2 separate regions of the Homo sapiens genome follow, and region 2 is linked to region 1. Evidence: fine-mapped expression QTL. A gene starts in region 1. The other region holds a variant in brackets. All regions are shown on one strand. Distances are between the middles of the regions. Region 1 holds the start of CCK (cholecystokinin). Region 2 has its middle 35 kb from the start of CCK.

The links.
Region 2: its variant is fine-mapped to the expression of CCK in fibroblasts (GTEx, PIP 0.99).

What each region holds. Positions count from the first base shown.
Region 1 is chr3:42,260,155-42,275,223 of GRCh38, reverse strand. CCK (cholecystokinin) reads left to right here and starts at 9,039. Exons shown (of 5, transcript NM_000729.6): 1 at 9,039-9,540; 2 at 9,787-9,955; 3 at 10,317-10,527; 4 at 11,592-11,807. The coding sequence starts at 11,594.
Region 2 is chr3:42,293,595-42,308,663 of GRCh38, reverse strand. No RefSeq gene overlaps it. Among named protein-coding and RNA genes, the nearest start is that of CCK, 35 kb to the right of the region's middle. The variant G/A (reference allele first, on the strand shown) is at 6,955.

The DNA.
Region 1 (15,069 bases):
GTGTCCCACTTTTTGTAATTTTTCATTTTCCTGACTCTATTGAAATCCTGCTTAACCTCCTTCCTATTCCCTCTTCTCCCTTTAAAACATCCGGTCACCTCTCTACAAATTCAAATTGCATTCAGTTCACGCTTGACTCTTTTCCCTATTGCAATAAAATATCACTGATTAAAACCTGTCCTTATCACCTTAACTACTGTCCAGTTTTGTTTATCTTTGATGCTATACCCACGATATTTTTAAAAATCAATATAATGCCCAAATATAATATAAATATTGATATGGTTTGGCTCTGTGTCCCCACTCAAATCTCATCTTGAATTGTAACTCCCATAATTCCCACATGTCCAGGGAGGAACCCAGTGGGAGGTGATTGAATTATGGGGGTGGCTCTTTCCTGCACTGTTCTGGTAACAGTGAATGGGTCTCATGATATTTCATGGTTTTAAAAAACGGGAGTTTGCCTACATAAGCTCTCTCTTTGCCTGCTGCCATTCATGTAAGATGTGACTTGCTCCTCCTTGCCTTCTGCCATGATTGTGGGGCTTCCCCAGCCACTTGGAACTGTAAATCCAATTAAACCTCTTTCTTTTGTAAATTTCCCAGTCTCAGGTATGTCTTTATAAGCAGTGTGAAAATGGACTAATACAAATATAAAATACATTCTATAATAAAAGGGCTGAGAAAAAAAAAGATAAAGATGCTCTCTTTGACAGTTGGGAACAACTGCCAAAGAGAGCAACTTGGCAATATTCACCAACATGCTAAATGTACATATGCTTTAACTCAGCAGTTCCACTTCCAGAAACTCATCCCATAGGTAAACTTGTGCATGTACAGAATGATGTATATTCAAGAAGCATTGGTTATAATTGGAAAATATTGGAAGCTACTTAAATTTCTATGAATAGGGCCCTGGCTAGATGAATTCAGGTACACCCATACAATGGAATAGTTTACAGATATTGAGGTAGAATTATGCTAACAGTATAAACTGACCTAACTCAAATACATATTTTAAGTGAAAAAAGTAAAATAGAGAACATTTTGTATTTTATGCTTCCATTTGGAGACTGTGTGTGTGTGTGTGTGTGTGTGTGTGTGTGTATTTCTTTGATACTTATTGATGTGCTTGTATGTGCATTGACTTTATCTGGAAGAATTTACTAAACGCTAAAGCACTCCTTGCCTCTGCATGGTGGAGGAAGAAGAGTGAGGGGAAAAATTGATTTTCACTATATACCCCTTTGCACCTTTTAAATTTTGAATTATATGCACTTAATACTTATTCAAACCATTTTATTTTAAATTTTAAAACTATGAGCCTTTTCTGATAAGGTTGTCCTGGAACAGCTGTGTCCCAAAGCCTTAGTTCAACGGAGGGCCCATGGCCACCATGCAGGCACCAGGCAGGTTGGTAAGGTAGGAGATGTCTCTGCTGGGGGCTGGGACCATTCCAGAGGACACAGACTTGCCCTCTGCTGTGAGGGGACCTCAGCTTCAGAGAGAAGCTGGATCAGCAGGACCACAAAGACTCCCAGACTGCCCTTCAAGTACTTCAAGTCTCACTGTTTGCTAACACTTCCCAAGGAGAGCCATGGAGGCCTCTTCTAAACCTTCCTCAAAAGAAAGTGAACTAAGCAACAGGCCTGAGGACACTGGTGGCTGGTTTCCCTGGCAACTACGGTTCCTCTTTTGGCTTTTCAATATTAGTTTGAAAAGCAAAAGGAAAGCTTCTTCTGCAGAGAGCTCAATCAGCTGGGATCTGACCTCTCATTCCTGTCATCCATTCACGAGGTGATCTCCCATTTCTGGTGGCTTTTCTAACCCTGGCTAAATGAAATGGTGCTAAGAACAATTCCTGTGGCTAATTGGGAGTCCACAATCCAACCAAGGGTCAGCAAATGGCTTTTAATTCATAGCTATCCATCTTGTAAGTCCAGTCAACTAAACTGATGAAACTAACAGCTGAATTTGGTGAACATTTATTGGTCACTTAGCATGTGTCCAGCACAATTCTTGCATTTGAGTGAATAAATCACAATTCCTGCTTTCCTGCATGTCAGATGGCAGATGAGACGTTCATACAGATGAAGAGTTCATTCAACAAATATTCATTGAGCAGCTATGTCCCAAGCCCTATTGTAGGAAATTAAGATACAATATGGTAAATGCTAACATTGAGTACATGCAAAGTGTTAGGAGAGTGTAGTGGCTCCGTGGCTGCCCCACTCATATTCCCTCGGGCCTCACTATCATGGTGCTTGCAGGCCCAGCTTCTGGTCACCAGCATCTGCACCTCTTCTCTGAAGGCTTCCATTGGGGGCTGGATCCTCAGTGGGCCAGAAGTGCTAGGGAATGAATGCCCCAGGAGCTTCCCTTAGCCAGTGAGTGAGTGGAGTTGATGTATAGACATGCACGCACCTTCGCACCCTAGGGTGAGATGGCTCTGAGGCCCACGTTCTGCTCTGGCCCCTAGAGTGCCCCAGGAGGTTAACCACCACCCATAGCTTCACTTGCCCATGATCTCTGTGCTTTTTCTCTTGCTCTTCTCACCCACAGCCCTCTTCACTCCCTTGGGTGGTGTTGGAATTTGTGACCCTTGAACAAGAGGGTCCTCAAGGTCCACCCCAGATTTAGGATTCCTTTATTCCACCAACCTTATAGAAATGCCAGTGAACAAATAAAATGTTAATTTACAGGGATGTTTTACTCTGTTATGGGCGGAATGTTTGTGTCTCCCCAAATTCATATGTTGAAACTGTTAACCAAAAAGTGAGTGACTGTGGCAAGTGTCTAAATCCCAGTACAGGTTTATTGAGCCAAAGTGTGAGGATGCACCTGGGAAAAACACAAGCCACAGAAGCATCTGCAACCTGTCCTTTCCAGGAAACTCAGTATTTAAAGGGAAGGAGCAAGCAGGAGAAAAGAAGGGAAGGGTGTAGGCAGTGAGGCAAACAGCTATCTACTTCTGAGGCTCTGATTGATGCTCAAATAATCTACACTCTACATAAGGTAAACATCTGAAAAGAGGGAGTATGGGAAAAAGTTGATGATGCAGCCATCTCAGGGCAGGCAGAAAAGTGATTGATCTTATCTTGTCCTTGTGTATTAGTCCACTTTCACCCTACTGATAAAGACATACCCAAGACTGGGTAATTTATACAGGAAAAAGGGTTTAATGCACTTACACATGGCTGGGGAGGCCTCACAATCATGGCAGAAGGCAAGGAGGAGCAAGTCACATCTTACATGGATGGCAGCAAGCAAAGGGAGAGCTTGTGCAGGGAAAATCAACCTTATAAAACCATCAGATCTCATGAGACTTATTCTCAATCACAAGAACAGCATGAGAAAGACCTGCCCCCATAATTCAATTACCCCCCACTGGGTCCCTCCAACAACATGTGGGAATTCAAGATGAGATGTGGATGGGGACACAGCCAAGCCATTTCATTTGTACCTGGGAAGATAAGCTTATAAACGACATTGTCAGGATAAAATTGAAGAGAGCTCAGTTTTAGGAGTTAAACTTGGCTTACAGACCTAAAGTTACAATTGGTGTGTGCTTGTTTTACAGGGGGATATGTGTCTTGAATGATTTAGAGACCTGCAAGGAATTCCCTTGTGAGCAATTTGTGAGGGTGACCATCCAGAGAGGTGGAAGGCCGTTCATCATTGTGGGAACCTGGCTTATGTATAAAGCTATGAAAACACAGGGTTGTGTCTGTTGTTTAAGCCACCCAGTCTGTGGTATTTTGTTATAGCATCCTGAGGTGACAGTGACACAATCTCTGTTAATGTACCTTTTATGTTCCCTCACCTGTAGCTATTCCCACCTCAGCCGTCTGCTTCTCTGTAGATGTTTGTTTCAGGAAAAAGAAAGGCAGTGTTGCATGGCTCAGTCTCTAGGCTTAACTCTCCCCTTGACATAATGAGTTTGGGGATCTTGAGATTTCCGAGATTTGATTTTCTCGTACAAAGCCCTAACCCCCAATGTGATGGTATTAGGAGGTGGGGACTTTGGAAGGTGATGGTGATTAGGTTTAGATGAAGTCAGATGGGGGAGGACCCTCATGATAGGATTAATGTCTTTATAAGAAGAGACACCGGAGAGCTAGCACTCTTGCTCTCTCTCTCCCCACCCCCCAACCTCCCTCTCTCTGCCACGTGTGGATACAGCAAGAAGTAGTCCATCAGTAAGCCAGGAAAAGAGCCTTCACCAGGACCCCGCCATGCTGGCACCCTAATCTCAAATGTCCCAGTCTTCAGAACTGTGAAAAATAAATGTCCATTGTTTAAGCCACCAGTCCATGGTACTTGTTATAGCACCCTGAGTTGACAGTAACACAGCCACTATTGATTTCCCCTTCATGTTCCCTCTCATGTAGCTATTCCCACCTCAGCCATCTGCTTATCTCTTCTCTGCCTGAGGGCTTTCTCTGGCTCTGCAGGAGCAGGTAAGCCTATTTGGAAGTGAGAGGGAGCTAACACCTGCTGGAACAGCCCTCAACTAATGGGAAATGGGAGTTGGTGCTCCGGCTCTCCTTCTGGCCTCAAGTAGGCTGGCTATGAGCCATGTTCCAAGAGGTATCTCAGAGAGTCCCCAGGGGATTGGGTCCACAGCAGTCATCCACTGTACTCAATACTTCACTGTCTTCTCTCTTCCCTTCTCCCTTACTCCTGCTCCCTTGGAATCACTCTCAAATAAATTACCTGTAACCAGGTGCTGTCCCAGGCTCTGCTTTTGTAGGAACCCAAACTATGACAAGATATTCTAAAGAAATTCATCGTTAGGAAAAGGAAACACTTCACCATGACCATAGTTACTTCCCTTTTTTCAGTCTAATCATTCCAGATATTGGCAGATGATATTGGCTATGTGGACTTTGAAAAATTCCAGGACAAATAATAATATTTTAATACATGTTCAGGAAAAAAAAAGACCCAAAAAAGAAGCCTTCTAACCATCACGTTTCTGATCACAGCAAATAGCCTCCTGCCTTCTGGTAAGTGGGGCTTGCTTGTAACAAGCTTAAATTCTATGAATAATAAATCAGGAGGCTCTAGCATGTCCCTGGAAATTCCACTAAGTTTTCTACACATACAAAATTGACATATGTCTTTGAGCTAGGTCTCATGACTAAAAAAATCGTGTATTGAAAATATATCTGTTTCAGGAACTAATCTTCGGGGATACCTCCCCAACTCTGAGCAAGATCTTACTTAAATTCATTTCACCGCAATCAGATGGGAATTTCTAGACTCCAAACCAGTGAACAGTCACAGGTTTCCTCTCTCCACTATTTCCTTTCCAACGCGGCATCTGGATATGGCACCCTCCACTCTCAGTCCTCCAGATAAAGGCAGGGACCAGCTGGTGCGTCTCATTCCATGATGGGGAAGAGTGGGTGGTGGTGGGAAGGACACAGAGGGCACTGCCTTTTCCATTCCTTTTCTGAGACAAGAGAATGAGCTTGGCAGAAAAGTTAGTTACCGTCTCACATTTGATGAAATACAAAACAATCTCCAAACAGTGCGAACTCCCATACAACTTCCTTTTTCTCTATTTGGACTGAAAAGCAAAACCATTTCTCCATAATGTACATACATAGCAAGGTCTACACAGCAGACAGCCTAACAGGGCATCCCCCAGCAGTGGTTTGCATACGTTCATGCGGGTGCCCAGTCCTCCACAGACCCTCCCCCTACTCTACTTTTCTTGAAAACATGTGTGCACCTTCCATGCCTGCTGTGTATTTTTTAAATTGTCTGTCTCCTCCACTAGAATGGAAGCATCACAAGCACAGGGATTTTGTCTGTCTTGCTCACCACTGAATCCCAACAGTGCCCGAAAGACAGTTGGTGTCTTTGATAGGGTTATACTAAAATTAGACAGACTTGAGTACATGTCGTTTATTTGGGAGAGGAGGAAGAAATGAGAAGAGTAAGACAAAGAAGGAGGAAAAAACAACTAAAGAGATGTTATCAGCTGGGCTTGGTGGCTCACACTTGTAATCCCAACACTTTGGGAGACTGAGAAGGGAGGATTACTTGAGCCTAGGAATTTGAGACAAGCCTAGGCAACATGGTGAGACCCTGTCTCTACAAAAAATTAAAGTATTAGCAGAGTATGGTGGTGTGCACCTGTGTTCCCAGCTACTCAGGAGGCTGAAGTGGGAAGATTGTTTAAGCCAGGAAGCCGGGTTTGCACCACTGCACTCCAGCCTGGGTGACGGAGTAAGACCCTGTCTAAAGAGAGAGAGGGAGAGAGAGAGAGAAAAAAAAAAGAGAGAGAGAGCTGTTATCAAGTTCACCGATACAGGCAAAGGACCGTTGAGAAGTCTTTAGAAGCTTCCAGAAGGGTTCATACAGAGAGACTGGGGTTCCCATTCCCCACTGGCTGAAGATTGTCTTTCGGGGAGATAACACCCAAACTTACAGGCTGAACCTCTGCAAGGGCTGAACTTTGAAGGAGATAAGCCAAGAGGGGTGCTTTGAAAGCTTGAAGTGGGAATGCTGTCTGCTGAAAACTGCCCAGCCTGGCTAGGCTGCAGCTGAAGCCAGAGGGAGAACGTGGAACTGTGGTGAGGAGCACCAAAGGCATCTGCCTCAGGAGACATCAAGCCCATTTTTTTAAGTGAACAAATGGATTATCTTTAATGCGGATATGCATCTGGATTACAGGAATAGTGTCGGCTCCAGGCCTAACTTGCTTAGGAACCATAGTCAGAATAATTAGTACCTGTTGACCCTGTAAGAAGGAAAAATCATGACTATGGCCAAGGAGTTCAGATCCCTTATGTCTTTCTATTTTCCTAGCAGCTCTTCTATCACACATTTCCTGCTCAGAATTTCCACTCCTGAGAGACAAGCGGCTACAACTGCTTTATTTTACAATAAAGAGGCAAGCAGCTCTCTTGATCGTAAATGAGAAAGGCCCATGCACAAGCCCTTCTTCAGCTTCTGATGGTCCCTGTCACCTCTGGCTCTGCACTGGCATTTCCACGCTGGCCTCCTTGGCCCACTTGTCTGGTTCTGTACCAGCTCTTTTTCCTCCACCCACTCCTTCACGCTGTCACTCCTCAGCGGTCTGTCTAGAGGCACCCTGCCACCCATTGCTAGCTGCCTTCCTCAACTCTCCCTATAACTCCCAGGCTGGCAGCCACCACCCACATGCCAGACTCTGGGTCCACCCCTCCAGTGTCTCTCTGCTCAGGACAAAGGCTCCCAAACTCCTCCTAGACTGTCAATGCACAAACGATCAACCAATCCCATACTGGACTCATTACCCGCTCCCCACTGGCCCACTACCACCACGGCCACACTCCAAGCCTGCTTTTCCTTCTGAATTCCCTGTCTTGGATAATACTCTACCACCCACCCTTGTCTCCCAGCCTGGAAACTCAAGGTCAGTCTCAGTCACCAAGTCCGGTTCCCTCTACCAGTTTCCTGAGCAGCAACAGGTTGTTCCCTGGGAGGCTGGAATTTTTCTTCTTTTCTCTACTTTTGTTTTCTGAATGTTCTCTGATGAACACTTATGACTTGCATAATGTTTATTATGTTTCCTAATAATTAATGGGTTTCATAATGGCTTATTATTCTAAAACAAATCTACCTTGATTGTTCCTGCTTGCCCATCCCCGAGGGCCTCCTATCCAGCCCTCCCCTTCCAGTCCCTCTGCCTTTTGGGCATCTTCCATATTACCACCTAGCTCCCCTCACCAAAACATTTCTCCAAGATTACCTCCTACCATCTCCACTCCATAGTCCCCAAATATCAGAATTGTTGAGAAGTGTTTGTCCACTTGTTTGCTTCAGCTCCCCTATTGTATTGTCAGCTCTTGTTCATACTGAATCCCTGGGGCCTGGCACAAAGTAAGTGTTGAATAAACATGAATTAAATGGATCAAGGCCAGGAGTTGAGTAACTGGTATAAGGTAGGGAATTTCTATAGAAATGATCTCAAAGTGTGCTTGGCGGACTAGCATTTTCAGTATGGCCTGGGAACTTGTTAGAAATGTAGATTCTTGGTGGGGCGTGGTGGCTCACGCCTGTAGTCCCAGCATTTTGGGAGGCCAAGGTGGGTAGATCACCTGAGGTCAGAAGTTCGAGACCAACCTAGCCAACATGGTGAACCCTTGTCTCTACTAAAAATATAAAAATTAGCCAGGCATGGCTGCACATGCCTGTAATCCCAGCCGCTGGGGAGGCTGAGGCAGGAGAATCGTTTGAACCTGGGAGGCAGAGGTTGCAGTGAGCCGAGATCATGCCACTGTACTCCAGCCTGGGCGACAGAGTGAGACTCTGTCTCAAAGAAGGAAAGGCAAGGAAAGGAAGGAAGGAAGGAAGGAAGGAAGGAAGGAAGGAAGGAAGGAAGGAAGGAAATGAAGAAAGAAAGAAAGAAATAAAGAAGAAAGAAAGAAAGAGAGAGAGAAAGAGGGAAAGAGGGAGAAGGAGAGACGGAGGGAGGGAGGGGGGAAGGAAGGAAGGAAGGAGGGAGGGAAGGAAGGAAGGAAGGAAGGAAGGAAGGAAGGAAGGAAGGGAGAGAGGGAAAGAGGGAAGGGGAGAGAGGGAGGGAAGGAGGGAGGAAGGGAGGGAGGGAGGGAGGAAGGAAGGGAGGGAGGGAGGGAAGGAGGGAAGGAGGAAGAAAGGAAGGAAGGAAGGAAGGAAGGAAGGAAGGAAGGAAGGAAGGAATTCGGATTCTTGGGCCCTTCCTCAGACCTACTGAATTAGAAGCTCTGGGGGTATTTCGATAACAAGTTTATGTTTCCAGACATGTCTTGCCACAATCACAAATAAGACTCTTTTTCGCAACTGAACTACACAAACCTTAGCAGGCTCGTGGCGAAACCACTGGAAAGCATTTAATCAGCTTCAGCTCTTTCAAACATGTTGCCCATAGGTTGCAGAAACGCAGCTGCCTCTCAGGATTAGAAAGTGGAGCAGCAACCGGAGGCGTCTCTGGGCCGCCCCCCCAACCCCCCCACCCCGCCTCGCCCACTCCACCCTCACACTGGCGTTGCCACAGTCCCTCCATTCCAGAGGGAATTCCAGAGCGGAATACGGATTCCGATTTTAAAATAAGCGCTTCTAAATCTTTCTCCTTGCATCTAAGACGGGTGGGGGAAAGAAAGGGAGAGGAGTTGAGGTCCCAAGGTTCAAGGCCTGGTGATCTCCAGGTCCCAGGCTGGGCGGCCTCGGTGCACGGAGAGGGCGAGGGGCGTGTTGTGGAGCCTTGGCAAGGCGCTGCTCTTCCTCGCGCCTCGGTTTGCGGTCTGTGAAATGGGGTTGGCAGTGCCTTTGCAGGGACGCGGCGAACTCAAGCACCAGCAAGCGGACTCGAACTCAAAGGGTTTCAGGGTGTAGACGACCAGAGCGCACTGAGGGGCTCCAGGTCGGCCCGCTCCGGAGCCGGGAGAGTAACCGCGTGCAGGGAAAGGCGCACGGCAGCCTCGGTGCCTCCCTTCCCTCCACCGGACGGGTGACTGACTAGGGGTGAGGTCCTCACCTCCAGGCTGCGCAGCTGAGTTCTGGAAGGTACTGTCCTGGGGGTGTGAGTGTGTGGGCCCTCAGGAAAGGTGCGAGGGGCGGATGCCGTGGTCTACCCGAGCTTGCGGGGGTGCGGTGGTCAAGTTCCCCAGGACCCTCGCTGGCGCCGCTTGTCGACAACGGGGAACAGTGGGCGCCGCGGGTGGTGGTAACTTGGCCCGGGAAGAAAACACATCCCTTTCCCAAACCGGATTCCTCTGAGCAAAACCAGATGGTGTCATCCGCATTTTACAGCTGCGTCAAGAGAGGCCCAGGACACCAAGAGCCAGCTGTGGCCAGAGCCCTTTCACTGACCCAGAACACTGGCCCTCGGAAACCTGGAGAACTGCGAGGGCTTTTAATGCGGCTGAGAAGAAAGTGAAGACCCCGACTCCTCCTCTCTCCTTCGAAAGAGCCGACACAGGTATGAAGACCAGCGCCTCGGACGCTCCGGGGTAGGGGGCCGACGCCCCCTCCCTTTCAGAATCACGCCTTGCTGATGCTCAGTCCTGCCCAGTGTCCACCCCCCACCCCCGCCCCCAGTTTCCTTTCTAGCCCCTCCGGTCCCCAAAGCGAACTAAGCTAGCGGCAGCTTCTCCATCCCGGAGGAGACTCCAAACTCCTAGGTTTCCCACCTTGGAGAGTACTGCTCTGGAATGCGCAGGGGAGCGGCACCTGGAAAGGGTTGGGCGGAAGCTTCTCGGACCCAGAGGGGGCGGACACCCGGCACCGCGCGTGGGAGGGATTAACTCCACCCCACTAGACCACCTCCCCCTCTCTCCCAGGAGCCACTTCAACCGGTTGTCGCCCCAGTGGCCGCCCTCTGAGCACGTGTTACTGCCAGTCTGCGTCAGCGTTGGGTAAATACATGACTGGCCGACGCCGCCGGGTGGGGCTATTTAAGAGACAGCCGCCCGCTGGTCCTCCCTGAACTTGGCTCAGCTGCCGGGCTGCTCCGGTTGGAAACGCCAAGCCAGCTGCGTCCTAATCCAAAAGGTAGGTCCCTCGGTTCGTCAGCGGGGGATCCAAGTGTCGTGTGTCTTTGAAGGATGCTGTCTTCAGCTTTGTGCCCATTTCCATTATGCTTTTCTATTTTCTGTGTCTTCCCTCCGAGAGCTCGAAAGACATTTCTTGAAGTCAGAAATAACGGCTCTGGGTCTAAAAGTGAGGTCTGGGTGGGTAGAGCTGCTTTAGAGCCTTTCATACGCCAGCATCATTAAGGGATGAACTACCCATTCGCTAAGATTCGCATGCAGATTGAGTTTGCTAGCTGTTACACAGCGGTGCGGGGGACTTTGCAATCTTTTCTAATAAAATATTAGAGGGTTTTAAGATTTAAATTCATTTTCTAAATACTGCAGAAAATTTCGAGGCTTTACGGATAGAAACTTGAGGGTGTTTTATCCACTAGCGATCTAAAATGCACGGGGCTTTCGAAGCCTGAGCGCTGGGCACATATTTCTGATTTTAAAACCTGCCTATGTTCTGCGTAGTGGCTTATTGCCATTTCCCACGTACACTTTGAGAAAAACTTTATAAATACGGCTTTATTTATTGCTCCTACATTTTAAACTGTGCTTCTCTTTTTCATCATTTACTGTATTTCCATATTGAAAGCTTGTTAGCTATCTGGAAAAGTGCTTTCCCCAGGGTTCTCATTTCTCCCACGGAGTCTTCCCTTTAGGATATTTTTTTCACACTATTTTTAATCTCGTGGGGTTTTATTTTTCTTCTTTCGGTTAGAAGAGAGGCACTCTGCAAACACTTCCTCAAACTTTAGGAAAGCAAAAACATTCCTTCTGCTCAACACGGCAGAAAACAGGGTCTCTGCCCCTTGGCGCTGGGTGAGGAGTTCCCAAAGACCAGCCAGGTGCGCCCGGGGGCGCGCGCCATGGCACTCGGCTGGGGTCAGCGCTTGGCGAGCCCTCGTGCTTGCGGCGGCCTGGCGGGTCTGGAGCACCTGTGTTTGTCCTAAGCCCGCTTCTGGGTGCCCGGCCCGCCGCAGGAGCTCTGTTGCCCAGCCTTTCAGTTAACGCGCCCTCCTCCTTTGCTCGCTACAGCCATGAACAGCGGCGTGTGCCTGTGCGTGCTGATGGCGGTACTGGCGGCTGGCGCCCTGACGCAGCCGGTGCCTCCCGCAGATCCCGCGGGCTCCGGGCTGCAGCGGGCAGAGGAGGCGCCCCGTAGGCAGCTGAGGGTATCGCAGAGAACGGATGGCGAGTCCCGAGCGCACCTGGGCGCCCTGCTGGCAAGATACATCCAGCAGGCCCGGAAAGGTAAGAATGCTGCCTCCCCATCCCTCACTTCTGCCCTTGTTCCCAGGCTCCCGATGCTGACCCTCTTCTCTAGCGCTAGCCTGATGGGGATGACCTCTCTCGGTAGGAAACAAGCAACATGATTTCTGGCGGTCCTTTGTAGCAATCTGAGAAGGGGTATGGAGGACTTAATTTATAAGTAAGGGGAACCTTCTTGAAAAGCTTTCTTTGAACTAATTTTTAGCAGTGTTGCTGATTAAGTTCAACACCATTTTACCAAGCCATTAAAAGATAATTATTGAAGCCTAGGAAAGGGTTCCTAGATACAGTGAATACCCTCTACTGAAAACGCAAAGGACCTTGGAGCCACCCAGATACCAACCCTTGGAAATCCTCTAGCAGGAAGGGGTCAATGCTGAGAATGCCTGAGATCTGGCTACAACAGTTTAAAAAAGCAGTGACAATGTGTCCATTTCCACCAAAGTATGTAACAGAAGGAAAGAATCAGCAGCAGTTTTGTGTTCTCCTTGCAATGACTTACAAATTATTACCCAACAAGAGAGGTATTTGTTTTTACTTTACTGTTGCAGAGATGGTCACAGTTGTAGCAAGAGCTGAGCAAGTCAGTTTTCTCAGCATCAAAGTCTTTCTCCAGGAATAAGGTGATTCAGCAGCTCACTAGCCGAGTGGCATGCAGGCAATTCTGACCTGAGGCTAGCTTTCCCCTAAGCTCCTTCCAATTCTTTGTGTGATTCAGAGGGAGGCCCATTCATCTCTTGTGACCCATAGGAATCATGCTTTGGATTGGGGCAGCTTTTTTCTGCCAACTTTATCCCCAGTGACACTAATGATGAACACCGGCTGTGGAGCAGTGTGCTGAACAGTACAAACACAGCTGGACATTAAAAGAATTCAGCAGGCCAGGAGCAGTGGCTCACACCTGTAATCCCAGCACTTTGGGGGGCTGAGGCAGGTGGATCACATGAGGTCAGGAGTTCGAGACCAGCCTGACCAACATGGTGAAACCCCATCTCTACTAAAAATACAAAATTAGCTGGGCATGGTGGCACATGCTTGTAATCCCAGCTACACGGGAGGCTGAAGCAGGAGAGTAGCTTGAACTCGGGAGGTGGAGGTTGCAGTGAGCCGAGATTGTGCCATTGCACTCTGGCCTGAGCAACAAGAGTGAAACTGTCTAAAAAAAAAAAAAAAAAAAAAAAGAACTTAGCAAACACTGCTGGAAGGGATGTGGTAGGTGTGTTGCCTTTTCCATGAAGCTCTCTTACCCAACTGGTGTTCCAGGGCCTGGATTTGAACCTTAACCCCTGGCTTGACCAGAGAGGGATAAGATGAAGAGTTTTGGCTCTGCAGAGTTCTTCTGTGGGTTCACATGAAGGGAAGACTGGAACTCTGACCCAGAGGCTTCAGAAGGAAAGAACAAATCAGTGATTTGTTGTATTTCTTCCTGTCTTTGGGAAATTGCCCCACCCACCACCTTGTGTTTTGCTTTCCTGCTAATTAAATTGAAAAAGATAGAAATACTTCTCAGATGGAGAGAGAAAGTCTGAAAGCTTTTGAGTTCCTGCTGATTCTCTGCCTGAAAATAATTTAGTATCTGTCCCCAGATACAGGCTGAATTTCAGCCAGACCAGTCTGAAATATCCTAGGCTTTTCATTTAACTGTGGACCTGGACTCCCCTCCTCCAATTTAGGAAAGACCCTGGTTTTTCTTCTATGTAGGCTGAGGATATCTGCAAAAAGGCCTGAAATGTGCCGAATTGAGTCTTGGTTCCAAAATTGCTCTAGGGAAAAAAAAGAAAAAAAAAAAAGCTCATTACCAAATTATTTCCTAGAACCAATACTAGACAATGGCTCTTATAGCATAAATCTTAGCTGGAAAGTTCTTTCTAGTCCCTCTTCTCAGCCCCCCTCTCCCTTTGCCTTCAGCCAATTGTGCCAAACAAACCCAGGAGGGAATAGCAATCACTTGGAAATTTAGATGCCAACACCTAGGATCAACTCTAGCTAAAAAACAAGCAAACTCTTCTATGTGACAAACATGAACTAGGACTAAATACTTACACATATAGATACTGCACAGTTTCTATATGTGCAGTATATAGAATATTTTACATATTTTGAATATTTTACATATTTTGAGATCATATCAGATTTTTGCTCCACTATAGTATATATTATTCTTAAAAGTTCTAAACAAGACAATGCATTCTTTGAGCAGTACTTAAGAGTTTATCATTAGGAAATATCTGCAGCACTTTCAATGGCCCAAGAAGAAACAATTCTATTGGAGGGCAGTGGGTAAAGATATCTAGAGGCATTTAGTGTGCGCCTCCCCCATGCCCAGCAAAGCTTCAATGCTACATCTATATTGTCTTTCTCAGTACAACAGCCCTGCACAGTGAATATTATTATACCCATTTTGCCAGTGTGGAAGCTGGGGCTCTAAAAGCCTGAGTAACCTACATGCAGTTGCATATCTACGCAACAGCAGGGCTGAGACTCTATCTAGTCCTGCTCCCCCCAGGAGGGCCTGGAAGCCATTCAGCTTCCTAGCTGTACTGCCTATTCCACATTTTAAAGTTTAAAAGAGCTAAACCCTTCAGTTTTAGCAAGAGCTAAGAAAGTCACTGTTTTCTCAGCACCAAAGTCTTTCTCCAGGAATAAGGTGATTCAGCAGCCCACTAGCTGAGTGACATGCAGACAGTCCCGAGGCTAGCTTTCCAATAAGCCCCTTCCAATTCTTTGTGTGATTCAGAGGGAGGCCCGTCCATCTCTTGTGGCCCATAGGAATCAGGCTTTGATCAATTCCATACATCAGATGTAAGCCCCTACTCTATGTCAGCACTGGGAAAGTGAGTGAGGACCCTGGTAAATACACATGACATGAGGACAGAACTGTACGTGGAACGGGGAAGTCAGGGTGTGTGATAAATGCAGCTTCCATGACTGAACATGGTGCCCCCACCGTTAACTGAGGCTGCTTGCTCGTATTGAAGCTGTCACCTTGCTTCCATTAGATGGAAATTTGGGTTGTGCCCAGGCCTTAGAGTGGGCACTCATCATCACAGCAGGCAGAAGGATGGGTCATGTTTCCATGTGACTGTGTACAGGTAACTGGGTCTATAGGTTTTCCTGAATTCAAGGGTAATATTTCACCTGAATGATGAACAATTAAATAGCAGGGGCTATTTTTCTTCTACGTAGGCTGAGGATATCTGCAAAAAGACCTGAAATGTGCTGAATTGACTGTTGGTTCCAAAAC
Region 2 (15,069 bases), 33 kb before region 1:
ACATGATCTCACCAAATGAATTCAATAAGCTATCAGGGACCAAGCCTGGAGAAACAGAGGTATATGACCTTTCAGACAAAGAAATCAAAATAGCTTTTTTGAGGAAACTCAAATATAATGCAGAGAAGGAATTTAGAATTCTATCAGATAAATTTAACAGAGATTACAATAATTAAAAAGAATCAAGCAGAAATTCTAGATTTGAAAATGCAACTGACATGCTGAAGAATGCATGAGATTCTCTTAATAGCAGAATTGATCAAGCAGAAAAAAGAATTAGTGAGCTTGAAGACAGACTTTTTGAAAATATACAGTCAGAGGAGACAAAAGAAAAAGGATTAAAGAAACAATGAAGCATGACTACAAGATCTAGAAAATAGCCAGTAGCCTCAAATGGGCAACTCTAAGAGTTATTGGCCTTGAGGAGGAGGTAGCAAAAGAGATAGGGGTAGAAAGTTTACTAAAAGGGGTAATAACAGAGAATTTCTCGCACCTAGAGAAATATATCAACATTCAAGTACAAGAAGGTTATAGAATACTAGGCAGATTTAACCCAAAGAAGACTACTTCGAGGCGTTTTATAATCAAACTCCCAAAGGTCAAAGATAAAGAATCCTGAAAGCACCAAGAGAAAAGAAACATGTAACATACAATGGAGCTCCAAAATGACTGGCCGCAGACTTTTCAGTGAAACCTTATAGGCCAGGAGAGAGTGGCATGACACGTTTAAAGTGCTGAAGGAAAAAACTTTTACCCTAGAGTAATATATCTGGTGAAAATATCCTTTAAGCACGAAGGAAGAAACAAAGACATTCCCAGACAAACAAAAGCTGAGGGATTTCAACACCAGACCTGTCCCACAAGAAACGCTAAAGGGATTTCTTCAACCTGAAAGAAAAGCATTGGCCGGGCGTGGTGGCTAACACCTGTAATCCCAGCACTTTGGAAGGCCAAGGCAGGGAGATCACTTGAGGTTAGGAGTTTGAGACCAGCCTGGCCAACATGGTGAAACCCTGTCTCTACTAAAAACACAAAAAATTAGCCAGGCGTGGTGGTGCATGCCTGTAGTCCCATATACTCAGGAGGCTGAGGCAAGAGAATCACTTGAATCCAGGAGGAGGAGGTTCCAGTGAGCTGAGATCACACCACTGCACTCCAGCCTGGGCAACAGACTGAGACTCAGTCTCGAACAAACAAAAAAATCCTTTATATTATCTAATATTCATTTTATATTTATATGTTCCCAATTGTTCTCCAAATGACTTTTTAGCTAATTGGTTTGAACAAACACCCAATCAAGGTCCACAGATTGCCTTTGTTGTTGTGTCTTTCAAATCTCTTTTCATCTAGAATATCCTCCCTTTCCCCCCTTTTTATTGTTTCATGACACTGACCAATTGAAGAGACCTGACCAGACAGATGTCTTATAGAACAACTCATCTTCTGAGACTAAAAGTTATTTCTAAATTAAGGTTAAAATGTTGGGAAAAAATATGTCATAGCACTATGTATTTCAAACTGCATTATATTAGGAGACACATAAAGTCTATGTATTATAATAATCGTTGTCCCATTATTGATGATGTTCCAATTATAAATTGACTTTAAAATCAGCTTTAAAAGCAATATTAAATACATTAAAAAGATAAAATATATATTCCTTAATTCAAAAATCAAATTCATGGAATCATACTTTAAGGAAATAAGGAACCCATGGGGGGAATCTATTCATGAATATTTTAAACACTTATCTATTTTATGAAAAAGCTAGAAAAAATATGAATATTTGACAGTAGCAACTCTGGTTCATTCATTCCTTTATTCAATAAACATTCATTTAGCTCTTGCTATGTGTTAACAGTGGGTTAGCTACTAAGTATTTAAAGACAAATATGGCATGGCCTCTGCCTTGGGGATCAGTTCGAGAAGCAAGCAAGCACACAGACACTGACACCACAAAGTGAGGAAAACCACAAAGGGGAGAATTTTCCACCTTTAATGACTTCAGGGTACTTCCCCCAGTACTCCACCGCCTCCCCAGATGAGGAGGCACTCAAGAATTGATTACCAATTCATTTGACATTAATTTCTAATGTAATTGCAATGTGGCTTTATAAAAGATAAACAAAATGATATTTCAGATAGCAAACAGTGACCACCTGTAGCCCTGAAACATTGAAGAGAGCCAAGATATCAGAGTTGATATTTGTTCAACAATAGAATTGTATCCATCAATTTTTTTATTGCTTGAGAGAGAATATATGGGGGAAGTTTGAGCATGATTTATTTGTACATGTAAGTAATATCAGTTTTAATGATACCTTCTTACAGTTTTAATGATGCTACTTATTGAGCCTAAAATTATGTTTCAAAGGCATTGGTAATAAATTACGTTTATTAATGGCAATGGTGGGTCATGTTTGCCCCATCTCTAGTCCCAGGACAGCAGCAGAGTGTGCACACTGCAGCTGGCATGCGGAACAGACCCGTGTCCCACATCACTGCTGATCTTGACACAAAGGCTTTACCACTCACAGTCTCAAAATGGACCTTGTCAAGTTAAGTTCAGGCACTTTTAAATGTTCACTCAAGTTGCAGTGAGCTGAGATCGTGCCATAGCACTCCAATCTGGGCGACAGAGCAAGACCGTCTCATAAATAAATTAAATAAATAAATATTCACTCAATTAGCTACTTTTTTTTTTTTAGACCGAGTCTCGCTCTGTCACCCAGACTGGAGTGCAGTACAGTGGCTCAATGTTGGCTCACTGCAACCTCCGCCTACCAGGTTCAAACAATTCTCCCAGCTCAGCCTCCCGAGTAGCTGGGATCACAGGCGTGCACCACCATGCTCAGATAATATTTGTATTTTTAGTAGAGACAGGATTTCACCATGTTGGCCAGGCTGGTCTCAAACTCCTGACCTCAGGTGATCCACCCACCTCAGCCTCCCAAAGTGCTGGAATTCAGGCGTTAGCCACCACGCCCGGCCAGCTACTCTTAAAGTTTGTTTATGTAAAACACTTTAACCTTTATGACAGTCAGAACTGGATGAGATTTTAGAATATCTTTAGTCCATTCCTCTGCCTTTAGACTGGACCATGGCTACTTGGAGTCATAAAGATAAGAATATATCTTTTTAAAATAAAATGGAATGCCACAAGGAGCAACTTCACCATTTCTGCTACCAATTTGCTTCATTGTTTAGAGACATTGGCATTTAAAGGCAATCCTCCTACATTCCTTGTGCTTGAGTTTAAATTTCATTTCTTTGATTTTAACCTTGACAAAGGTGTAGTGCCCAGGATCAGTCCCTGTCTACCTCTCACCCTCCTTTCAAGTTATTCCTCTCATCTTCCACTCCATCCCCCTAATATGCTTGGCTCTTCCTCGCTAGCTCCTATTGCAAAGTTTCCATATCACACACCACCACCCCAGCTAGCATATGGCTTGTTTCTCAAGGGACAGTGAGAGGAAAACTAGGAATTTAGAGCGGGGCAGAGAGTGCCTCTGCCCTCAACTGGACAAATTCAGGGGAGCTTTCCCCACCTGTTCAGAGGAGGCAGCCCGGTCCTGCCTAGACACTGTTTTAAACTTACTCTGACATTGTTATTAGCAATTCTAAAAAATGGAAACTAATCAAAAGTAATGGAAAAGAGATCAGGGGTTGCATGGGGAGGGGGTTAAAGGAAGGAAGGGGCACCAGAAAACTTTGAGGGGAGATGGAAATATTTGTTACCTTGATTGTGATGATGGCTTCAAGGGTGTAGACAGATGTACATTCTAAGTATGTGTAGTTTATTGTACTTTAATTATATGTTAATGAAGGTATAATTGTTTTAAAAATCCTTATTAGCTCTTAATTCAACTTATTTCAGACCTGGCCTAATTTCAGAAGGCTTGTATTACTAATTTGTAAAGCCAATAGTTTGTCTCCCTAGTCCTCAGAGCTTGAAAGCACAGTAGTAACATCTTTGCACAAGCCCTACTTTGTAAATCAGCCTTAGTTCCTTGTAATCATGTAGCCACTTCACTGTCAATGGGGCTCAGAGAAATCAAGTAGATTGCAGTTTGTTCCTGCCAGAGAGCACCACGCTTGCAGTTCAGCTGTGTGTGGGCCACCCTGTGACATTGGAGAGGCAGACCTGGCTCAGTACAAGGGACATTTCATAGGTGAATATTCTGAAGAGGACATTCAACATCATGCATATGGATGATCATCCCCCCACCCTCACCAAGACATTCTCAAGGCCACAGCTAAGTCTTACGCATTCTAAATGTTTGCTGAGATGAAATGGGGTTCACGAACTGTTTCCTTCCCAGCAGCATCCCAGCTGTGTGTTAAGGGGAAGAGATCTAAAACTCTCTCTCCATCAGCATGGGGAAGCAGTGGAGAGAGACTGTGAAAACCTTGAGCATTTTACAACTCCAGAGCCTTCCAGACTGAAGGCTCAAATTGCATTTAGCTCCAGCACAAGGCAGAAGATGGCAGGAAAAGACGATAATCAACACAATGTATGCACATTTCCTTTTCCAAGGAGGAGTGTGAATCTTTGATTCTAGTCACAAATATCCTTCCCACCCCAAGAAAAAAAGATTTCTTCCACCATTCACCTGGATAAATACAGTACAGAATTTATAGAAGTCAAGGTTCAAATGTAATTGAATGTAACATGAACGTGGCTCAAATGAGCTTGCACAGAATTAGAATTTATTGACTACTATAGGCAGGAAATCCAGTAATTGGTCTCCATTCAGGCATAGATGGATTCAGGTGTTAAAGGATGCTGTCCAACTTCTGTCCCTTTCCTTTTCTCTCACCCCTCTCAATCCTCTGTGCTGGCTGCATTATAAAGCAGACTCACTCATCTTACTTTATCCAAGATAAAGACAGAGGCAGCTGCCTCATTGTTAATATAACAAATCTTGTGGAAGAACTTTGATTGTTTCTGCTTGGATTAAGTGCTCATTTGTGGACCAATCACTGCAACCAAGAGAATGAGGTGCTCTGATTGGCAACATCAGTGGTCACTGTTCATCCTGTGACTAGGACTGAGAGGGTAGGGAGGAGGAGAATTATAGGCCCATCCAAACCATATGGACTGGTTTTCCCAAAGTGAAGAAGAGTTATATTGGCAGAACAAGGACAGAAGAGCATGCTGGGAAGCTGTCACAGTCCACTAAAAAGAGGAACAGGAAGAGCTGGCATGCCCGATCAGAAAGACTGTTGTCTGAAGAAAAAACCCCTCTTCCACTTCCTGCCACCTGGAGGGTCACAGAGCTTTTCTCTCTTGTGAACTCCCATAGTTCTCATTCATCTGGAGGAAAAAGATTCAGCTTTGGTGGAAAGGCGAATGCCCTGCCTCTGCCTCTGCTATCTTCCTTCTGCAGCAGGAGGAAAGGCCATGGGCCTGCCCTCCCCATTCACAGGAAAATCACGATGGCAGCTTTTAATTTCTTCAGAGTGGAGAGAAACCTTGACCTTCACAGAACAGAAAACCACTCTGAGGGTGAGGGAAGTACTGATGAATAAAATATCACCATTCTTGCCTTGACCTGTGAGACTTAGATATATGATAACAGATACTCATGACAGAATGGTGGAACCTATTACATAATCACTTTCTGTGATAAGTTTGAGGTTTGGTCTCTCTAAAAGTCCACAACTTGAGATTCTTTATCCTTCTTCCTTTCTTAGTACTATTCTATCCAAGAGAAAGAGGAGACATGCTAGACCTGCTTCTGATTCACAGGGACACTAGCTAAAATTCCCTGTGACTCAAAAACAGGTCTAGCTTATGCTGGGCCTTTCTTTTACCATTGAACCTCACACCTCCCTGGTCCCCAGTCTGCCATTTTACTGTGTGGCCTTTGGCAAGTATTCTGATCTCGCCAAATCTGTTCTCTCAAGGTCAGTGGAAGTAATGAGACCTACTTTTGCAGGAAGACACACCAGAAAAAGTTTCCATAATTCCTTTCTTTCCTGAAAACCTGAAACCGTTGTTGAAACCTCATTTTTAACAGACTGCATTAGTATTATGAAACATACACTATATATCAATGAAAGTTAATATCCACAACTCCTAAAATGTTAATTAATACACATTGTACATCTCTGTGCTATGCTAAGAATTGTGTTTTTATCAAATGCTTTTCTCAAGTCCATGCACAATTGCATCCCATTTCTCCTGACTCTGAGGCACAGCCAGCCTACCTCCTTGTTAGTATCACTGTGTTAGTCCATTCTCCCATTGCTATAAACACCTGAGACTGGGTACTTTATAAAGAAAAGAGGTTTAATTGGCTCATGGTTCTGCAGGCTGTACAGGAAGCATAGGGGCTTCCGGGGAAGCCTCAGGAAACTTTCAATCATGGCGGAAGGTGAAGGAAAAACAGGCATGTCTTACATGGCTGGAGCAGGAGGAAGAGAGAGAGCAAGTAGGTGTTACATAGTTTTAAACAACCAGATCTCATGAGAACTCTATCACAAGAACAGCACTGGGAGATGATGCTAAACCGTTAGAGACCTCCCCTAATCCAGTCACCTCCCATCAGGCCCCACCTCCAACCCTGGGAATTACAATTTGGCATGAGATTTGAGTGGGAACACAGATCCAAAACTTACCAACTACTGAGGCAATAATGGGAGAAGAAAGGGAAAAAGAACAGTGTGTGCATGTGTGTGTCCCCACCTACTCACACGCACACCACAATAATCTGGTGATGTAGACACCATTCTTTGTCATGAGTAAAGTATTTTGCCACATCCCCCATCTGGGTTCCACTCCCATCAGGACCCTTCATGGGAGCCCAGTGACTCCATAGTGTCAGGGCGTATTCAACCAGTTCTAACCTCATACCAAAAGGAGGAGACATACCTTCTGCAAAATTATTAAACTCAAAGAAAAGCAGAAGAGAAGGAAACCCTACACCCTGATGTCATTCCCTCTGCCTT[G/A]TTTTAGATCCTTACTGCCAAGTAGAGAAGCACATAGTTTAGGCTTGGTTGGAACAGGATGTGAGAACACAGATTTAAAGACCACTTCAGGAATTCATTTTTGAGTGACTCATGGGAAACTGGGTGTTAAGTGACTTTTTGGGGGCTGGGATGTGGCTGATACGGTCAGTCATCAGAGAGCAACACTTGGTGTCCCTGTGCCTTTATGGAAAAAGGGAGAAGCCAGCTGCATGCCTTTTGTAGGCTGGACAGAAAGATGGTGTTACTTGTTCCTCATCCTTTGTTGTCCTTGCCAAGGCTCTCTTGTTGGCCATGTATACATGTATACACCCTTGCTCCACTGGTTTTGGGTTTGATCTGTGACTTGGAATGTGAGTAGGGGTACCATATGCCCATTCAACCAAAGGCATTAAATGTACTTGCATGGTTTGGTTTGCTTTCTTCGGCTTCTGCCATCTGTCATCAGAACAGCATTCCCCAGGAAGCTACCTCCCATCCAGCCTGGGTCCCAAAATAAGTGACATGTAGAAAATTAAACTCAACCCACAGCCTGAAGCAGTGTCTGGAGGTCCTTCCCATCACGTGTCTTCCCATCCTTCAACCACCTCCTGCTCTCTCCTGGCCTGGGCCATGTGGACACAGTCGTAGCTAGACTCTCCTCAAGAGGATGAATTCCAGTCTTAACCGACCCCTTCATGACCACCCCACTGATGTTTCTCACCTCCCTTGAGTCATCCTACTGTGACCTTTCTCCCTTATTCTCAGAAGATGACATACCATATGCTGTACTAGAAAGATGAAAGCTTTTCTGTCTGGTTTAGGTTTTACCAAAAGCAGACTCTCAAACAAGAATTTGAGTGAGGAGGTTTATTTGTGAGGTGATCCCAGGAGACAGATGTAAGGAAAAAGGGAAAGTAAGACAGGTAAAGGAGACAAGCCAACAAATGGTGCTATGGTTTGAATGTGTCCCCTCCAAAATTCAGGTGTTGCCAGTGACATGATAGTATTAAGAGGCAGTGCCTTTAAGAGGTGATTAGGCCATGAAGGCCCCTCCCTCATGAATGGGATTAGGGGTCTTTATAAAGGAGCTTGATGATGGGAGTTCTTCCTGCTTCCCCTCTTCTGCCTTGTGCCATCTAAGGACACAGCAAGAAGGCCCTAATCAGATGCTGGTGTCTTGATCTTGGACTGTAAGAAATAAATTTCTGGGTTTTTGTAAATAAATAACTCAGTCCCAGGTATTCTGTTATAGCAGCACAAAATGGACTAAGACAGGTGGCATTAGTGAACTTCTGGGCAACTGGGGCTCAATCCATTGCATACCCTCTGAGGAACTATGTAAAATGTGCCTCCAATTTTCTCCCCAAAAGAGGACCAGGGACACGATCTCGTCAACTATTGACTGAGGATTGGGAGTGGTAACTCCCTTGTACTTCTGGGATGTGCCTGCACCTGGCTAAGTAATCTCCTGCCTCTGATGTGAAAGCCTGAGGTTTTGTGTGGAAGCAGGTCACAGCAGGGAACTGTCCTCCACTGCAGTGCTGAAACTAGACAGGCCAAGGGGATCTTGTTTCAAATGCTCTATTCGTGTGCTATCCATGTCCCTGTGTCTCTGGCCTAGTGTCAAAAACAGATCTAGAGTGAGATGTAAGAGGCAGAGACAGAGACAGACAAACTGCTGGTGGTATTCAATCCTGGTTCCAGGCATTCCTCTTTGTCACAGAACACTCCTAACTTTCCGTTGGTTTGGAGGAGGATCTGCCAGGTTCCAGCAAGAAACAGAGGGTAGTCTCAAAGGGTTTCAGTGAAGAAAGTTAATTATCCTCTTGTCCCACTATTATTCCTATAGATCAGACATAGCAATGACGAAAGTTTGAAGAGAAGTTATGTGAGAATAACTTGAAGTGAAGAAAGTCCTAGAAAGATTGCCAGATTTAATTTTACTGGTGGATTCCAAGTTTGGTTATTTGAGTTCAGAAGGTCGCTGAGTTTGAGAAGTCCTCTGTTCCCCTCCAGTCCTTTTGGCCCCAGAACCATAATAATTTCTTCCCCCTGGTTGCCAAACAATGGTATGTAAGATGGTTCTACTGCCCTGGGTTTAGGCAGAGAGAGATGTCTTGTCATCCTTTTCTTGGATTTAAATGATTGAGTTCCCAGACCACTAGTAAATCTTTGGACAGTTAGCCTGATGTGGGCTGGGGAAAGGATGAGTGGCTTGATATTTTCCTAGAGACCCTCATCAGGATCAGGGGCCTAGCTAGGGGCACAATTCTAAATTGGCATTTAGTTTTCCTCAGTACCTTAAGGACATTAATCTGTTGTTTCCTGAAATTTATTAATATTTTTACTGTTGAGAAACTGATTGTCAAGCTCATTATAGTTATTTTGCATGATTTTTATTTTCTTTCTCTGAAATTTTTTTTAATTCCTTCATCCTTAATGTTCTGCAGTTTTCATCAAATGTGTCTACATATGGATTTATTTTTATCCTGCATAATTTTTAGTACATACTATGAATTCAGGGACTTATGTCTTTCTTTAATTCTAGAAAATTCTAAGCATTTTCTTAGAATATTAATTTGCTGCATTTTTCTAACTCACTTCTTGGACTCCTTTTACTTATTTATTTATTTTTCAGAGACAGGGTCTTGCTCTGTCACTCAGGATGGAGTTCAGTGGTGTGATAACACACACTGCAGTCTCGAACTCCTGGGCTCAAGGAATCCCCTTGCCTCAGCTTCCTGAGTAAGTACGTAGGTGAATCATCATGCCTAGCTATTTTTTCCTCCTTTTTGTGGAGACAAAGTCTTGCTATGTTTCCCAGGCCGGTCTCGAACTCCTGGCATCAAGAAATCATCCCACTTTTGCCTCCCAAAATACCAGAATTACAAGCAGGAGCCTCTGTGCCTGGCCTGGAACTCCTTTTAGATGTTTGCTAAAGACTGTCAAACTACCCTGTTTTTGTGTGTATGTTTTATCCTTCCCTCTTTCTGTGCTATATTCTGGATTCACCCTTTAGGACTAATTTTCCAAGTGCTTAGTATAAAATTAGAGTTTGTCTTGTCCATAGGACTTTTATTTCAATGACCTTATTTTTCAATTTCTAAGATTTCTATTTGGTTCTTAGCATATTTACCTGGTCTCACTTCTGTTTGCTTTTGTTCAGTAATTTCTCATTCCACAGCTATTTATTCATCTCTTGAGAATTCTCAGCATATGTAGTGTTCAGATTGCTCTGTAGCTGTTGACTCTCGAACAACACAGGTTTGAACTGCTCAGGTCCACTTATTTTCTTCTGCCTCCACCACTCCTGATGCAGCAAGACCAACCCCTCCTTTTACTCCTCCTTCTCAGCCTATTCAAAGTGAAGATGACAACGATGATGACATTTATGATGATCCAATTCCACTTAATGAATAGTAAATATATTTTCTCTTCTTCATAATTTTTAATAGCATTTTTCTTTCTCCAGCTTATTTTATTGTAAGAATATAGTATATAATACATATGACATACGAAATATGTGTTTATCAACTGTTGATGTTATTGATAAGGATTCCAGTCAACATTGGCTATTAGCAGGTAGGTTTTTGGAGAACCAGAAGTTATATGTGGATTTTTGACTGCATGGCTGGGGGGGGTGGTCAGTGTACCTAACCCCATGATGTTCAAGGGTCAACTGTATTTTCATTTTATCTGATATGAATTCATCTCTTGATTGTTGATTTTATTGCTGTTTTTCTTAGAATTTGATTTTCCTCGGTGTTTTCAAATTTATTTTTTAGCCTGTCTCGAAGTGATGTCCCTCTTCTCTCTCTTTTCTCCCTCTCTCACCCTATCCCTCAAGTACATTACTTCCTACTAACTGGTTTGTTGCTGCCTCTGCTCATCCTCCCAGGACATCCAGCTGCCTTGTGATGATATTAGAGACTCTGCATATCCATTTACCCAGGCTTGGTCCAGGTCCTGGCTGTGAAGTTCTGTCTGCTTCCTCTGCCCACCCTGGGAAGGTAGATTAAGTAAGACATAATTCCTGGAATTGATGGGGAATGATTTTCCTTCCTCACCTTGTTTCTCAGGCAAGGAAACCCCAGACCAGCTTGTGGCTTGCATGGGTGACCCTGGATCTGGAGCCTTGCCTTGTATGGAGCAATTTTAGCTTGCACTTCCCTGAGTAATGGGAAGTGCTGCTGTTGCCTATCTCTGCACCTGGAGGCCTGATGCCTATACCTTTAGCCCCAGCTCACCACCATATGTATCTATTATGTTTCCAGTCCATGTATCTATAGATTTTGGTTGTAATGGTAGCTGTATCTTCCTAATTTACACGTTTTACATTTTACCTATTACCTTTTGGAGGTGATTAGAAAGGCGGCACTGACTAGATGAACGTTAAGACAAAGTTTTAAGAAAATGGCACCTCTATACCTACCTGCATGGTTTATTTCACTTATTCGCATTGGAAAATCCCTGCTTCAACTGAGAAATACTGTAGCACAGTTGTTTTTTCATTACATTAATATTTCTGCCTGGCTCAACAGTCAGTAACTTTATTAAGATGTGATAAAGCAAGCTAAAATTATTTTATTAACCCCCAAAGCCAGAATAGAGTCTCAGATAGCATCTTCAAATCATGAACAGCCTAAACAATGTGACCAACTTTAATTTCAAGGAGCATCCTGGCCACCCAACGTTATAAGGAAGTCAGTAAAAATTGAAACATTTACCCAGAAACACACACACACACACACACACACACACACACACACACATTTTCCTGACAGCTGGGAAAAAGAGAAGCATTTGGACCTACATTTTAAATAAGTCCCCCTCAAAATTGAAGCTGATATTAAATGTTTTTAATTTAAAAGCAATTTAAGGAATAAGGCCATTTTTTGATTGTGGAGTTTTTCTTCTTTTCTCTCTCTTACTTATTTCCCCCACCCCCATCAACACATGCCTAATCACTATCTCACATTTTTCCCACTTGGAGGAAAATGAGAGGTTGAACAAATTCAAAAACCCTGGTAAATGTCCCATATGCATGTGGCCATTGCTACCTAAGTTACCTTAGTTATCTAAGTCAACTGTTTGTCAAAGTCTGGTCTAAGCCCAAACGTGAGACATGGGGGTCCTTCTGAAGGCCACAAAAAAGAGAGGGTGTTGCACTGCAGTTCTGAGATGAACCCTAGAAAAGTTGAAATAATTTAAAAAATAATACTTAGTCTGCGTCAGGCACTGAGAGAGGCACTTTACATTTATCTCATTTAATTCTCACAATAGCTCCAAAAGGAAGACACTATTGTTCTTGTCCTCATTTTACTGATGACAAAATGAAGGCTCTGAAAGGATAAGTAGTTTTCACAGCTAAGGAGAAGAATCAGCATCTGATCCCAGGCAGTCTGGATCCAGAGTCTGTGCTCTTAACCACCACAGGGCACTACTCTTGTAACCTGAGTAACCCAGAGCTATTTTTTTCGGTGTTGTTGTGTTGTTGTGTTTCTCGGGGATTTTTTTTGTTTGTTCATTTGGTTGTTTTTTGTTTTTTTGTTTGTTTGTTTGCTTTTTTTTTTTTTTTGAGACAGGGTCTCACTATGTCATCCAGGTTCAAATGCAGTGGCTCAATCTTGGCTTACTGCAGCCTCGAGCTCCAGGGCTCAGGCAATCCTCCCACCTCAGTCTCCCAAGTAGCTGGGACTACAGGTGCGTGCCACCATGTCCAGCTAATTTTTACATTTTTTTTCTACATATGGGGTCTCCCTGTGTTGCCCCAGATGCTCAGAAACTCCTGAGCTCAAGTAGTCTGCCCACCTCAGCCTCCCGAAGTGCCAGAATTACAAATGCGAACCACCACACCCAGCCTTTTTTTAAAAAAAAAAAATAGAGACAATGTCTCATTATGTTGCCCAGGCTGGTCTCAAACTCCTGGCCTCAAATGGTCCTCTTGCTTTAGCCTCCCAAAGCGGTAGGCCTCCCAAAGTTCTGGGATTGTAGGCATGAGCCATTGTGCCTGGCCATTATTTTTAGTTTTATTCTTTCAATTTCTGGTCTACTGATCTATTCACTCATTGTGTCCATCTTTTCTTAAAATTTTAGGCATATTTTTAATAACTTAAAATTTTTATCTTCTTACCCTTCTATTCTCTCACTTTGTAATCCTTTTTTTTTAAATCCTCAAACATACTTGTAATAACAACTTTAAAATCGTTTGCTAATTTCAACACATAGGTTATTTCAGAGTATCTATTTAGTGCTTTTTCTATTGATTATGGTTCCTGTTTTCCTGCTTCACATGTCTGATAATTTTTGATTATATGATGGACATTGTAAATGATACCTTGTACAAAGTCTGAACTATGTTGTCTTCCCTTAAAAAACAACAAAAAAAAAATGTTAAGTTTTTTCTGACTGGTGGTTAAATGACTGGTAGATTCTCTTGATGCAGTCAGAATTTGGTAGGTTTTGTTAGGGCCAATGTATTTCGAGTTTTGTCCATAGTCCTAGAAACATGGCCTTCAATCCAGAATGTGGTCCTTACTCCTAAATTATGGCTTTTCCGACATCTCAACTGAATGCTTGAGGTGCTCAGCAAAGTCTCTGAACACTGACTGTGTGGGAACTCAAACATTTCCCAGGACTTCACTACTTCTGTGATCTTGACTTAGTTCTCTGCATTCCAGGACAGCCTTGCTCTGCACATGGACAGCCCAGAATGCTCTGCCTTGTGCACTCTCTCCTTTTAGCACCCTTCCCTACTAAATCCAAACACCCCAAATGTCATTCTCTGCCTTCTCCACCCAGAAAGACCCCTGTGTTCCACTGGGGCTCAACTTTCCTGCTGCAGTCTGGGAAGGGCCTCCAGGACCGGGACAAATGTGAATTTCTCTTCTTTCAAGAATCAGAGACTTGCATTGTCTGCTGCATTGTGCTGAAAACATTTGCCTCATAGGTTTTGTCTAGTTGTAGAATTGTTTACAGGAGGGACCAAAGAACAAAGGAAGTATGAGAGTTTTGTGGGGACAGGGGAGCCTGTTATGTGTACAATTGCTAAATGTATTTTATAGGTGATGACAGCATTTGCTGCTAATGAATAGTTATGTGTCATTTTCAATGTACTGTATTTCATGGACTCTAAGACTCAATTGATTATAAGATATACCACTATTTTAAAAACACTAAAGGGGCTGGGCGCCGTGGTTCATGCCTGTAATCCCAGCAATTTGGGAGGCTGAGGCAGGTCGATCAATTGAGGTCAGGAGTTTGAGACCAGCCTGGCCAACATGGTGAAACCCTATCTCTACTAAGAATTAGCCGGGCATGGTGGCATCTGCCTGTAGTCCCACCTATTCAGGAGGCTGAGGCAGGAGAATCACTTGAACTGGGGAGGCAGAGGTTGCAGTGAGCCAAGATCGCACCACTGGACTCCAGCCTGGGTGACAGAGTGAAACTCCATCTCAATAAATAAATAAATAAACAAATAAATAAATTAAAACACTAAAGGAAAAAAATACTGCTGTTAAACATAATTCCTTGAGAATCACCCTGCATAATGCATAAATCAGTCACACCTACCTCTTGTTGCCTTGAAGTTTCTTTTATCTAATCCAAGGAATTTGGCAATTTCTTCTGCCTGTAGGTACATGGCTTGATGTGTACTGAACAATTCTTTTGCAAGTATCTCAATACAAAATACAGCACAGCTTCATCTACTTGTGGGTGATATGGTTTGGATGTTTTGTTCTCTCCAAATCTCATGTTGAAATGTGACCTCCAGTGTTGGAGGTGGGCCTAGCAGGAAATATTTGGGTCATAGGGGCCAATCCTTCATGAATGGTTTGGTGCAGTTCTCCCAGTAATGAGTGAGTTCTCACTCTATGAGTTAACGTGAGATTGGATTGTTGGAAAGAGCCTGGCACCTCCTTCCTCTCTGTCTTGCTCCCTGTCTTGCTATGTGACACACTGGCTCTCCTTTGCTTTCCAACATGGCTGGAACCTTCCTAAGGCCCTCACCAGAAGCAGATGCCAACTATGCTTCATGTGCAGCCTGCAAAACTGTAAGCCAAATAAATCTCCTTTCTTTATAAATTACCTAGTGTATTAGTCCATTTTCACATT